Regions from separate parts of the Homo sapiens genome. Here region 2 is linked to region 1. Evidence: fine-mapped expression QTL. A gene starts in region 1. The other region holds a variant in brackets. All regions are shown on one strand. Distances are between the middles of the regions. Region 1 holds the start of MFHAS1 (multifunctional ROCO family signaling regulator 1). Region 2 overlaps MFHAS1 (multifunctional ROCO family signaling regulator 1).

Evidence for each region.
Region 2: its variant is fine-mapped to the expression of MFHAS1 in whole blood (INTERVAL, PIP above 0.99).

What each region holds. Positions count from the first base shown.
Region 1 is chr8:8,892,077-8,896,425 of GRCh38, forward strand. It overlaps MFHAS1 (multifunctional ROCO family signaling regulator 1), which reads right to left and starts at 1,554. Exons shown (of 3, transcript NM_004225.3): 1 at 1-1,554. The coding sequence starts at 982. It also overlaps the pseudogene RNU6-682P. RefSeq lists an enhancer at 1-935 and silencers at 780-1,049, 1,160-1,439, 1,450-1,699.
Region 2 is chr8:8,856,787-8,861,173 of GRCh38, forward strand. All of the region lies in intron 1 of MFHAS1 (multifunctional ROCO family signaling regulator 1), which reads right to left. Among named protein-coding and RNA genes, the nearest start is that of MFHAS1, 35 kb to the right of the region's middle. RefSeq lists an enhancer at 3,640-3,849. The variant G/T (reference allele first, on the strand shown) is at 1,870.

The sequences.
Region 1 (4,349 bases):
TATCCAGCCACAAGGTGAGAAGCCGGCCCAGGCCCGAGATAAGGGATGGCACCGAGGTGAGCTGGTTGCGACTAAGGTAGAGCTCCTCCAGACCAGCCAGGGGCAGCAGCGCGGCAGGGAACTCCTCGAAGAGGTTGGAGGAGAGGTTGAGCATTTTGAGCCGCTGCAGGCAGCTGAACTGGGCGGGCAGAGCCTGCAGCCCGTTGTTGTCTAGCATGAGGCTCTCCAAACTGGCCAGCTCGCAGAAGCCGGCGGGCAGCGTGCCAAGCTCGGCCCCACTCAGCCAGAGGATCTTGAGGGCACGCAGGGCACTGATATCCTCAGGCAGGCCCCGCAGCCGGTTGCTGGACACGTCCAGCTCCTCCAGGGCCACCAGCTGCAGCAGCTGCCGGGGGAAGGCAGTGAGCTGGTTGTGATCCACGTCCAGGGTGCGCAGGCGGGAGAGGCAGGAGAGGGAGTCAGGCAGGTGCGCCAGCCGGTTAAAGCTGACATCCAGCTCCTCCAGGTGAGCGAGAGCGCCCAGCTGGGCGGGCAGGGCGGGCAGCTGGTTGTGGCTGAGGTTGAGCTTCCGCAGCTCCCTCAGAGCACTCACCACCTCCGCGCCCAGGGCGGTCAGCCGGTTGTGGCTCACGTCCAGCTCGGTGAGGTGGTGGCCGAGCTCGGCCACCGCCGGGGGCAGCCGGGCGAAGCGGTTCCTGCGCAGGACCAGGACGCGCAGGCTGCCCAGCGCCGACCCCAGCCCCTCGGGTACCTCCTCCAGGCCGTTGTTCCCCAGGTTCAGTGCCTCAATGTCCCCGAGGTTGGCCGGCAGCACGAGCTGGGGGGAGGCGGGGGACTCGAGCGCGTCGGCCCCGGCCCCGGGGCAGGCCCCGGCGGCGGTAAGCGTGAGCTGGCGCAGGTTGCTCCGCAGCTTCCTGGCACGCAGGGCGGCGTCCCGCCACAGCCTCGCGGTCTTCAGGTTGCCACTGTCCATCCCAGCCATGGCGGGGCCCCGGGCCGACAGCCTCACGCGGACGCGGGAGCCCGCAGCTACATGCCGCGCCGCGCCCCGGGCCCTCCGGCTCCTGCCCCTGCCTGCCCTCCCGCGCTCGGCGGCCGGCGGCCGCGGGTCCTAGCGCAGCCAGCGGCCGAGCGCTGGCGGCTAGGGGGCGGCGGCGACGCGAGCGGCTCCGGGGGACGCCGAGCGCGTGGAGAGCAGCTTGCATTCTCCCTGCGGCCGGGCCATGGGCGCGCCGGGCAGCAGGGCCGCCGCCCGCGCGCCGCGGAGGATGCCTGCTCCTCCTCCCTCTCCGCCCGCCGCGCGGCGCCTCGGGGGGCCCGGCTCCGGCCCCGCTACCCTCGCAGCCGCGGTCCCGCGGCCGGCAGCGGCGTCGCCTCCTCGAGCTCCTGGGGGAGGGCGGCGCTCGGCCCGGCGGCGGGCATGCTGCGGGCGCAGGGCTGGGGCGCAGCCGCGGGGAGGGGGCGGCGGCGCCTCCTTGTCTCCGTTTCCCCGGGCTCGGGCGGGAGCGCGGGCGCCGCGTCCCCGGCGCTGGGAGGGCGCGATTGGGAAGCGGCAGCGCCGCCCGCCGGAGCGGCCCCCACGTGACCGGCGGAGGCGCCGCGTTTTCCCGGCACCGCCCCGGGGGCGGGAGCTGCGGAGGGCGCCGGGTGCGGGGCCGGGGGCGCCTGGCGCGGGGCCGGGTCCGCGCCCCGGACCATGCTGGGCGGGGAGGTCGTCCCAGCGGCGGATGTGGGGCTCCGGGGCCCCCCTGGTGGGTTCGCCCGCGCCTGGCTCTTTGTTGGCCCCCAGTCTCTAAGGATTTCTTTTTCTTGTTCTCTAATGCGTCGGATCCGCCGGCTTCCCTTACTCATCCTTTACCTGCTCCCCTGCCGCTCGCCTTGCATCCACGCCGTAGTGGAACTGGCACAACTCGGGGGCCCTGGGTATCATCATAGAAGCTTAGGACAAGAGTGTGGTTAAACAAAATTAGAACAGGCAACCATTCATTCATTTGGTAAATATTTCCTGAGGCCCTATTTCGTGTTGAACATGGGACAGGAGTAATGCAGGCTGGTCAGAGGAGAATAAAAAATACCAGGCAGCAGTTTCACTTGACTGGAGGCTATGGGCTGATAAGACCCTGAAAACCAGGGTGTGTACCAAGCTGGCTAAGACCGGCTGGACCCGACGTGGTCCTGGATTTGACCTAGGTTTCTCCTAGGCCTCCATTATACGCTCTTTAACATCCTAAGTCACACCAGTGCCATGACAATTCCGGGGACACCCATATTTGAAGTAAAAATGGGTGGCACCACAGTCCCGAAAAATCTCCACACTTTTCCAGGAATTTTCATGAATATTTCACCCCTTGGTTAAAGAAACCCATAAAGGTAGCAGCCCCAAGCCCCGTTGTGAGTGACCCTCTCCACAATCCCTTTTCCTGGGTGTGTACTTTTCCCTTTGCAATAAATCTGCATATTGTCACTATTTTCTGAGTTGTCCTTGAACTCATTCTCTGGATGTGTCAAGAGCCTGGACATTGGCTGGGGTCAAGGTCGCACTGGCTTTAGAGGATCTCCCCCAGCCCACCCGTACCAGAACTACTAAAAGACGGTTTTAACCCCCCTGGGGAAGGCTTTTGAGCAGGTGGCCCGCCAGCCTAAAGGAGGGTTGTTAAGATGGGGGGGACACAAGCTGTTTATCTGGGGTATCCCGTTTATCTTCACAACAACGCTGTGAAACAAATACTGTATCCCCATTAATACAGTACCTGTTGTTCTGCGGACTCAAGAAAACAGCTATTTTGGGAAACAGTCACAGTCCATTGTTCAACTCTAATGCTTATTTTTATTGCTGTTAGGAAATGTTTCTTTGAGCTCACATCTATGCTAAGTCAATAATTTCTCCCGAACTTATGAAAGTCTGGAAACCTACCAAGACTCCCAGTGTCACCTCCATCATTCCCTTCAGGTTGATTGATAAGGAAGCAAATAGTTTTCAGGGACCGAAAACTGCGTTCAGTTGGTTAAAGGCATCACTTGACCCACTGCAGCTCTCCCCGACATGCGCTATGGCTGTCATTTGGGGACCCATATTTGGTGCAGTAACGTGAGAAGTGTGTGTTTCCAAAAAGAGCACCTGAACATCTGAGGCTGGAAATCCACCCCAGTGATGGTTATCAGGCTGCAGGTAGTACATGCTGTAACTGGAGGATGTTCCCCAGTTCTGCTGGGTCCCTGAGGCTCTGACACCACAGATGAAATGTGAGTAAGTGAACAGCAAGAGCTGATCTGTGTTCACTCTGAAGGACTTCCGAGAGTTCAGATGGCTCAGGGTAGCCCCACCCACACTCCCTCCCAGAGACAGTCAATTTTACAACAAATATTCTGAGTTATCTAGGCTGACCCTTTTTTTCCCCCACAGAGGAGGAAATGGGCTCAAAGTAAGTGACTTCTCAATCAGCCATCAAAGTAGAGTAGAGGCAGGACTGCTAACTCCCCGTGTGGAATGTATTCCCCTGTGATCATCACCTGTACTCACACTGTTCTTGAGCCAGACCCCAAATTCTCCATCCTGCAGCTTCTTCTAACAAAAATATGAACTCAGCCTGGGTAAGGAGACTGGAGTAGGCATCACCATCCTACACCACCTTACATGATTATATCTCAATAACTGCTAACTGTTCCTCTTTAGAAGCCATCAGAAAATTATACTTCCTCCTGCAGAAGCTGAAATCAATTGAAAAAAATGAAAATTGTGCTTGCTTCAGCAGCACATATACTAAAATTGGAAAAATACAGAGAGGATTAGCATGGCCCTGCACAAAGATGACATGCAAATTCATGGTGTTCATTTATTTAATAATATTTTCATTTAAAAAATTATTTTAAAAAAGAAAAATGGCCGGACATGGCATCTCATGCCTGTAATCTCAGCACTTTGGGAGGCCGAGGTGGTGGATCAGTTGAGGTTAGGAGCTCAAGACCAGCCTGGCCAACATGTCAAAACCCCATCTCTACTAAAAATACAAAAATTAGCCAGGCATAGTGGTGCGCACCTTTAGTCCCCAGCTACTCAGGAGGCTGAGGCACGAGAGTTGCTCGAAACCAGAAGGCGGAGGTTGCAGTCAGCCAAGATCACACCACTGCACTCCAGCCTGGGTGACAGAGTGAGACTTTTTCTCTGAAGAAAATTATATTTTCCTTTCTTTTCTTTCTTTCTTTTTTTTTTTTTTTTCTGGAGATGGGGGTCTTGCTTTGTTGCCCATGCTGGACTCGAACTCCTGGGCTCAAGCAGTCTTTTTGCCTGAGCCTCCTGAGTAGCTGGGATTATAGGCATAAGCCACCCTGACCAGCTTATACTTCTATTT
Region 2 (4,387 bases), 35 kb before region 1:
AAGCCCATGAGCCAGATTCCTGTCACCGGCATGTATCAGTTTATTGCTGCACACGGGAAACCTTGCAGCCACAGGGCTTTGTTTATACACTGCCCTAGAAGCCACTAGGATTCTCTAGATCAGAAAGAGAAATATATTCTAGTTCTCATCTTTCAAACTGGCTCAAAACCTGACACTTTCACATCAGGAAAGTGAAAAAAAAAAAAAAAAAAAAAAAAAAAAGAGGAGAGATACCGAAAGAGCCAGGCTGTTCATAATTTTGTTTTGGAGGCAGTGCAGAAGAAAACATCCTAGAGAGGCACTGCCAAATTCTAAAAAGAGTCTTAGAATGCCAAAAACAGATTCAGTCCCTTAAGCAAAGTGGAAGGGAAAAAAGAAGCCTATCAATTCAAAGCAATAAAGATTTAAACAGAAAGTTCATGAGACATCAATAAATTCCGCGTGTGGCCCTATTGTTTAGTTACTAAACTGCCAATGCAACTTTCAGTGGTTAACCAACACAGCACAAGTTTGCTCCTAATTTAATATCCCTTTCAGATTTCTGATTCCATAATGAGATATCTTCCAGGCCAAAATATGCCAAATTTTTCTACCCTGAAACAAACCTGTGAATTTTCTGGGCTTAGGTCCTTTCTTTTTTCCTCCATTCAGCCACTGAAATAATAAGAATTCTAATTAAAAATGAGTTCAGGCCCGGCGCGGTGTCTAACGCCTGTAATCCCAGCACTTTGGGAGTCCCAGGCAGGTGGATCACAAGGTCAGGAGCTCGAGACCAGCCTGGCCAATATTGTGAAACCCCGTCTCTACCAAAAAATATATAAAAATTAGCCAGGCATGGTGGCGGGTGCCTGTAGTCTCAGCTACTCAGGAGGCTAAGGCAGGAGAATCGCTTGAACCCGGGAGGCAGAGGTTGCAGTGAGCCAAGATCGCACCAAGGCACTCTAGCCTGGGCAACAGAGCAAGACTCCGTCTCAAAAAAAAAACAAAAAAAAATCTTTTGTTTGTAAACTCAGTAGATATATAACTGTCCTACAGTGACATTGACAAGTTAACTTTTAAAATACCTAAAGCAAGTTTCCCTGTAGAGTTGGGCAAATTCCATATGCTGACTGCCCACTTGTTGATACATTTTGCTATCAGGAACCCAACACCACCAATTTTGGGGAAACCTTTTTCTAAACAAATGAGAAAATCCAAGATGATTCAAATAGCTGAGCTGAACAAAACAAAATGCTCTGAGACAATGACTGGTGTTCACTGATCTGGGTCATTTGCCTGCCTCCACGCCTGACAGCCTTTGACCTATCCCAAAGCAACAGCCATCTGTCTAGTATCTGAACAGAAATTGGGACGGAGCACAGGGGGTATACAAGGCAGGGAGTAGTTAAGAAGCCAGCAAGGGAAGGAAGGAAATTGTTTAGTAAGTGCCCACTACATGCCAAGCATTGTCTTAGGCATTTTTATATGCATTATTTTATTCAGTCCTTACAAGAGCTGTATGACATAAATTTTGCTTTTTTAAAACTAAGCAAGTCTCAGATGTCTCCATGTCATCAAAATCTAAATATATAACATTATTACCCTTTGAAAATTCTAATAAATGAAAGAAAATTTAAATTTAATATTTAAAATTATATTAAATGGCCCATCCAGTTTTGGAGCCTAGGAAGGGTTCAACAAGAGTGATTTATTTTACTAAGACCTAGAGCAACAGATGAGACCTATGTTACTGAAAACGATTATGCAATGCTATAATTACAACTATATTAAAAATATGCCTTTTGGGGGATACTCTCTTCATTGTGGCGATGGCCTCACAGGTAAAAAACAAAAATAGACAGTCCTCCCTCGGTATATATATGGGGGGTT[G/T]GGTTCTAGGGCCCCCATCCCCAGCACACCAAAATCTATGCATAAAGTCCTGAAGTTGGCCCTCGGGACCTGCATATGAGATGAGCCAGCCCTCCGTATGCACAGGTGGCGTCGAGGTGGACCCAAGCAGTTCAAATCTATGTTGTTCAAGGATCAACTACACTCATGATTCAGACCAAAATAGAAATAAACAAAGTGAAAATATCCGTAACAACAAGGATAAAGCATTCTCAGTCAAAAAAGACTATATAGAGGAACACAAGCCAGATATCTGTTTTATATTTCTCAACATATTTTCTGCACAATACCAGCTCCAGCGGATGTTACTTCTTACATATGCACACACATACACACACACATAAAGATTCTTCAGTCAATAAGTTTGAAAAATGCTTGGTTAAACAAAGCTCACCACGGCTGGTAGTGATGGCTCATGCCTGTAATCCCAAAACTTTGGGAGGCTGAGATGCAAGGATCACTTGAGGTCAGGAGTTCGAGACCAGCCTGGCCAACATGGCGAAACCCCGTCTCTACAAAAATTACATGGGTGTAGTGGCACACGCCTGTAGTCCCAGCCACCTGGGAGGCTGAGGCAGGAGAATCACTTGAACCCAGGAGGTGGAAGTTGTAGTGAGCCAAGATCACACCACTGCACTCTAGCCTGGGTGACAGAGCAAGACTCTGTGCCCCTCACACCAAAAAAAAAAGTTCACCATGTTTCCTAACTGTGGAACTTCTCAGAGGCCTTCTCATACACTAAGATACTTGGTGCTATTCAAAGACAGCTTAATAAAATACAGTTGATCGTTTAACAACACGGGTGTGAACTGTGCTGGTCTACTTATATGACAGTTTTCTTCCACCCCTACCATGCCTGAGACAGCAAGACCAACCCCTCCTCTTCTTCCTCCTCCTCAGTCTACTCAATTTTAACATGACAAGGATGAAGACCTTCACCGATGATTTACTTCCATTTAAGGAACAGTAAATATATTTCCTCTTCCTTACGGTTTTCTCAGTAACATTTTCTTTGCTCTAGTTTACTATATTGTAAGAATATAGTATCTAATATCTATAATGTACAAAATATGTGCTATTGACTGTTAATGCTATCAGTAAGACTTCCAGTCAACAGTAGGCTATTAGTAGTTAAATTCTGCAAAGTCAAAAGTTAGATGTTCAACTGAATGGGGGGTCGGTGCCCCCAATGCCTGCATTGTTCAAGGGTCAACTGTATTTTTTACTAATTTTAAGTGATATCTGGTATTAATCCCATTTTCAGTTAAGTGGCAGTTCAAACAAATTAAAATAACTTACCCATCAGGACTGCATACCTTAGGTGGAGGATTTAGGATCTGAAACACATTTGGCTGGCTCCAAAGCCTGTATTCTCTCCCATTGTCCCACAGTGCCACAAAAAAAATGGAAATAATTAATTTGGGTCTGCCTGCTCCCTCTCAGGGCTGCAAATCCTTCATCAAGAGTCAAGGTACGGTCAGAGGGAGCACACGCAGGCCTGAGATTCCACAGAAAGAGCACAGAACAAAAGATGGAAACCCATCCCACTCACACGACAGCCCTTCTTGGGTACACTCTCTTTGGTGGCAGATGCCCAAAGATAACAGACTGTGCTACGCGTCAACAATCTCATCTGACTGCTAGGTTAGGTCCATTCCATGTAAAAATAACAACAACCCCTGCCTTCTCAGTCCCCTGTACTTAATTATTAGAAAAAGAGAAGGAGAAAATACGCCAGTTAGGAAACTTCAAGAACGCCCTCTGTTCCTTTCCATTTTGCTGGCATGCATCTCTACTAGAAGCCTGAGAAAATAAGGCATCAAGGTGACCAACCTACATACACTTGTACCGGATTCTCTAGAATGTGTCTTCAGGAATTCCCCGGGGCTCTTCCTGTGGTGCTGAGAGTGGCTCTGCCACCATCACAGCAAACAGGAGGCTTAAGGATGAAGTGACAGCCGCTTTCCCAAATGAAATGCCATAACATCACCCAGACCGCCTCACTTAGGACTGAGGGCTCCACGCATTCAAGCAATAACTAAAGGAGAATCAGTGTGAGGTCATCCACTGAGTCATGCCAAACTACAAGACCTTTTTTTCTCTTGAAAAAGGGTGAGAGAGATGTTTGCTCTTGGCAGACAGTTCTAATTTTCATGCAAATTAAATCATTGGTCTCGTTTCCATTTCTTCTGGGCTCATACGCATACATATTTATGTATACATACGTATACAAACCCACAACCACTTATTTCATCACTATGAAAGCCCAAATACCTTATTATAATCACTGCAATGGACATGACAAGAACTGGGAGTTCTATTTCACAGTCCCTATTAGCGATTATGACAGAAAGTCTACACGTGCCTTTTAATTTCATCACTTAACGTTTCTTGGGCTGAGGTAATATCAAACTCATCTTTACATTCATCCACTGTAATTTCAAGTAGAATGCCTGAAAAGTGGTAGACATATATAAAACATCTACCGAACTGAATTAAA